2 separate regions of the Homo sapiens genome follow, and region 2 is linked to region 1. A link means that fine-mapping ties the variant in region 1 to the expression of a gene that starts in the linked region. Tissue or cell type: whole blood. Region 1 holds a variant in brackets; the other region holds the start of a gene. All regions are shown on one strand. Distances are from middle to middle.

The links. PIP is the estimated chance that this variant, and not a neighbour inherited with it, causes the effect.
Region 2: it holds the start of SLC38A10, and the variant in region 1 is fine-mapped to the expression of SLC38A10 in whole blood (INTERVAL, PIP 0.97).

What each region holds. Positions count from the first base shown.
Region 1 is chr17:81,325,127-81,327,805 of GRCh38, forward strand. All of the region lies in intron 1 of TMEM105 (TMEM105 long non-coding RNA), which reads right to left. Among named protein-coding and RNA genes, the nearest start is that of TMEM105, 4.2 kb to the right of the region's middle. The variant C/CT (reference allele first, on the strand shown) is at 1,349.
Region 2 is chr17:81,294,220-81,296,898 of GRCh38, forward strand. It overlaps SLC38A10 (solute carrier family 38 member 10), which reads right to left and starts at 1,088. Exons shown (of 16, transcript NM_001037984.3): 1 at 604-1,088. The coding sequence starts at 702. RefSeq lists silencers at 564-633, 734-1,003 and an enhancer at 1,664-1,753.

The sequences.
Region 1 (2,679 bases):
TGATCTCTGCTGTCCTCGAGAGACCTTCCTCCCTGATGTCTCTCCCCTCTCTTCTGAGGACACATGTCATTGGATTTAGGGCCTACAGTAATCCAGGATGATCTCAACTCGAGATCCTTAAGTGAGGATCAGAGATGTGAAGCAGCCTGCCCCAAGGAGGCTTAGCTGGGAAACAGCCGAAGAGTAAAACCTGAAAGGCCACAACAGGTGCCTCATGACAGCGGTCAGATGCTTTGTGGCATGGCCAGGGACCCGTGCTCCAACCAGGAGTCGCCACAGTCTGAGACTCCCCTCTACAGCGGCCAGCCATGCTGCCCACCCGACTGTGCAGAGGTGGTAGGCACCAGGCACACCCCTGCAACCTCGGCTGATAAGGCCCCTGCCTTCTGGGGGACCCTGAGATGCTGGGGAGACTGGAGACTCTGGGCCATCCCCAAACCACTGCTGTCACTTGAGGCTTAGCATTGCAATGCCTGGGCATCCCTGAGTGCCACCGTGAGCCTGTGTGTCTCGTGACACGTGTGCAGATGTTATTCCCGGCACAGATACTGAAGGGCGATGCGTGCACTCAGCAGCCAGGAGGGTTGCAGGGCCAGTGGTGAGAGGACCAGGTTCTGGCTCAGGCTCACACTCTGAGGCCCCCAAAACCCAAACCACGAACCAGGCAAGGCTTCATTCTCAGCCACAGGGGAGGCCACGCCCACCAGCACCTGCCCGACGCCGGGGTCCACCTCCAACAGGTTTCTGGCGGTGGGAAAAAGTGGAAGATGCAGGCCAGAGGAAGGATGCTGCCTGACCGACCACAGCCAGCTCTGCCTAGCAGCCCCGAGAGCAGGCAGAGGAGGGAGCAGGAAGAGACCACAGCTGATCCCAGCCTTCCTGGCCCTGACGATTTCACCTTCCCCATCCAACCTTTGAATGAGAAGCAAAGTGGGCCAGGCACCATGGCTCATGCCTGTAATCCCAGCGCTTTGGGAGGCTGAGGTGCGAAGATTGCTCGAGCCCAGGAGTTTGAGACCAGCCTGGGCAACACAGCAAGACTCCCGTCTCTACTAAAAATAAAAACATTAGCTATGTGTGGTGACACATGCCTGTGGTCCCAGCTACTTGGGAGGCTGAGATGGGAGGATCACTTGAGCCTGGCAGTTTGAGGCTACAGTGAGCCACGATTGTGCCATTGTACTCCAGCTTGAGCAACAGAGCAAGACTCTGTCTTTTAAAAAGAAAAAAGGCAAAGTACAGAGGCATTGCCTGTTATCCCTGCTGCCAACGGGTCTGGCCCTCAGAAGGGATGGGTTGCCAGATGACGCAGGTGGGCCCCTCCTGGCCTTGCACAGGGTCCCCCCTC[C/CT]TTTTTTTTTTTTTTTTGAGACAGAGTCTCACTCTGTCACCCAGGCTAGAGTGCAGTGGTGTGATCTCGGCTCATTGCAACCTCTGCCTCCCGGGTTCAAGCGATTCTCCTGCCTCAGCCTCCCGAGTAGCTGGGACTACAGGCGTGCACCACCACACCCAGCTAATTTTTGTATTTTTAGTAGATACAAGCCTCAGGCTTCAGGCCTCTAGAGCCACAAGAAAACGAATTTCTGTTGTGGTTTTTTTGTTTTTTTGGAGAGTCTCACTCTGTCACCCAGGCTGGAGTGCAATGGTGCAATCTCGGCTCACCACAACTTCTGCTTCCCAGGTTCAAGCGATTCTCCTGCCTCAGCCTCCCAAGCAGCTGGGATTACAGGCATGCGCCACCACCCCCAGCTAATTTTTTGTATTTCTAGTAGAGGCGGGGTTTCACCATGTTGGTGAAATTGGTCTCGAACTCCTGACCTCAGGTGATCCACCTGCCTCAGCCTCCCAAAGTGCTGGGATTATAGGCATGAGCCACCTCGCCCGGCCCCAACGGACCCATCTTCAAGTGTGTAATTCAATGGCATCAACTCCATTCACGATGTTGTGCAACTGTCACCTCTATTAATAGTTCCAGAACATTTCATCATCCCAAACAGAAACTCTGTACTCATTAAGCAATATCCCTCCCACCCTCCGCCCCCCCGCCAGTCCCTGGTGACCCCAAATCTTCTGTCTGTCTTTGTGAATGGCCTGTTCTAGAAGTTGCACAGAAGTGGAAGCACACACCACGTCCCTTTCTGTCTGGAATTCCTCAGTTAGCATAACGTCCCTGAGGTCCATCCACGCAGTAGCGGGTGTCAGATTTCCTTCCTTTTCCAGGCTGAACCCTGTTCCACACGTGGCTAGACCACAACTTGTGTGTCTGTCCACTCATGGGTCGACGGCACTTGGGTGCTTCCACCTCCTGCTGGCCGTGACCAGGGCTGCTGTGGACTCTGGCGCTCTCGTCTGCACCAGCTGCTGCCTTCAGTTCTCTGGGGTCTGTAGCCGGAGTGGCATCGTTGAGTCACGTGGGAATCCTGTGCTCTGCTTTTTTTCTTTTCTTTTCTTTTCTTTTTTCTTTTCTTCTTTTCTTGAGACAGAGTCTTGCTCTCTCACCCAGGCTGGAGTGCAGTGGTGCGATCTTGGCTCCCTGCAACCTCCACCTCCCGGGTTCAAGCGATTCTCCTGCCTCAGCCTCCCAAGTAGCTGGGATTACAGGTGTTCACCACCACGCCTGGCTAACTTTTGTCTTTTTAGTGGAGATGGGGTTTCACCATGTTGGCCAGGCTGGTCTCAAAC
Region 2 (2,679 bases), 31 kb before region 1:
GGGGTTTCAGCATGTTGGTCAGGCAGTTCTCGAACTCCTGACCTCAGGTGATCCACTCGCCTCGGCCTCCCAAAGTGCTGGGATTACAGGTGTGAGCCACCACCCCCTGCCAAATGTGCGGTTTTTGTGAAACGCAGATCTTAGGTGTATAACCTGGTGGATGTTTTTAATCACCTTGCAACCAAGGTCCCTATCTAGTGTCGAAGCCTGGGAGTGGTGAGTTGTGTGCTTCTGAAGACAGGTGCAGTTGGGTCAGAGTTTTTAAAAACACGATAAAATGTAAAAATACGGAGTCCCACCGTTCCCTTCCGATTCTGGAGGATCATTTTGCTTTGTTACACTTTGCTTCGGTATCGAGTTTTTGAGTGTGGGGAACTTTCCGGCCCGGGCTGACAAGGGCTGCCAGGGCCAACGCCGTGCGCTTCTCATCCACGGATTCTCTACGGGAACTGCGCCGGGACCCAGAGGGTCGCCCCGCCCGCGGCCGCCTGCACCCGCCCAGCGAAGCCCTGCCCCGGCGGGAACTTTAACCAGGACGACCCAGCCAGACGCCCCCTCTGCGGGGGAGGCGAGGGCGGTGATCTCCGGGCCCACCGGACTCACCTGTTTGAAGCAGAAGGGCATGGTGAGGACACTGACCCCTACGATGCTGTTCACGATGTTCGTGATCAGCCCCCAGTTGGAGGCGGCGGCCGCGGTCATAGTGAGAGGTCTAGGGGCCCGGGGCGAGAGGCCTCGGGGGTCGCCGGGCTGCGGCCGGCTTTGGAAGCCCAGCCCGAGGCCACGGTCACAGGTCCCAACGTCCGGGACGCCGGTGGGGAGGGGATGGGCAGCCTGAACACGGGAGCCTGAGCAGGCGCGGGCGCGGGCCCCAGAGGCTGCCTGGAGGAGGCAGCCTCGAAGGCCGGCTGCGGGGGCGAGGTCAACCTCCGGACCCCGCCAAGCCCTGCGGCCGCCTCAGGGCCATGCGTCCCTCGCTCGGCCTCGCGGGCCGCCTGTGAATCTCCGAGCCCAGACCCGGAAGAGCCGCAGAGCCAGCTAGGGACACCTCAGCCCAACTCAGCTGCCGCCGCGGCGCTCACACTTCCGCCTTCCACGGGCTCCGTTGCCCGGAAGTGACGGCCAGGGGGTAGGGTTTGGTGGGACGCGAGCCAATGAGAGGCGGGCCCGGAGGGGCGGGCGGAAACTGGGCCGGTGGGCACCTGAGGGTCTCGCAGCTGTCCGGTTCGCCAAGCTGGTCCAGCCGACCTGTGCCCGGGGCCCCAGTTCAACGAGCTGGAGGACAAGGGACTCGCCCCGCGAGGCCTCGGTTTGGATGGGCAGTCGCGGGCTGGAGAGAAGGGGAGGCGCTGTGCCTTCCGGGGAGGAGCGGGTTTAAGGGTTCCTTTTTGACCTTTATTCCCAGGACCGATTCTGGGGCGAGTGCTTGGCGCCAGGGCACGGGGGCGGGGGCCCTGACTGCCTCAGCCGAAAAATAGTCTGTTGTGAGGAATTAGCACCTAGGAGGTAGGAATGAAACGCTGGGCACAGAGAGGCTCGGCCACTCCGCTAAGGCCACACAGCTCCAAGGGGAGGCGGTGCCCTGCCGAACTGCGCCCAGATCAGTGGCAATGTTGAACTTCACCTTTTCACACGAAAAGAGCAAGGGACATTCCTGGAGGGGACAGGAGAGGTGGAGGCTTACATGAACAGGGAAACCCGGGAGGGCTTCCAGAAGGAGGTGGCTTCTAGGCTGGAGCTTGAAGGACAAATGAGAATTCCTCGGGTAGAAATGGAGACCGGGGAGAGGAGAGAACAGAGAAGGGTCCCGATAGATCTGTGGATTCCTGGCACCTAGCTGCTCACTCTGAGTCTAATGAATGAGCGCGTAGACCGAATGGCTGGGAAGCAGCAAGTGATTCCAGGCTGCTGGGGGAGGACGGCGGAGGAAAGGAGGCCGTGTCTGCAGCACCTGCAGGACCAGGTGTCTTAGAACAGAGGCCCGTTCCTCAGGCACTGGCAGTGCAGCCACCAAGTAAGGCTGTGCCCCACCTTCAGGAGAACAGGAGGAAATGCCTGGGTAAAGACTAATTAAATACGCAGGCAAAATAACAAATGCCTGCGTTCTTTTTTTTTTTTTTCTTCAGTCAGAGTCTTGCTCTGTCGCCCAGGCTGTATATGCAGTGGTGTGATCTTGGCTCACTGCAACCTCCACCTCCCAGGTTCAAGCTATTCTCATGCCTCAGCCTCCCAAGTAGCTGGAATTACAGGCTCCCGCCACCACACCCGGCTAATTTTTGTATTTTTAGTAGAGACCAGGTTTCACCATGGTGGCCAGGCTTGCCTCAAACTCCCGACCTCAGGTGATCCGCCCACCTCGGCCTCCCAAAGTGCTGGTATTACAGGCATGAGCCACCGCACCCAGCCCATTTACTTTTATATAAATGAAATGGCATACACATTCCATAACCTCCTTTTTATTATGTAATTTTCATCAAATGTTATGCATGCGAGGTAGGCTGGGCAATTTACATGTATGTTTTCACAAATAGCAAATACCATGGACCCGCTATTGAGCTTTAAGAACAAAATATTACCGAAGACTTAGATCCTCCCTTTCAGTTCCTCCCCAGTTCCAGCACCTTCTTCCCCTCTTCCCTGCTATCCTGAGACATCACAATCCAGATTCCATCAATTCAT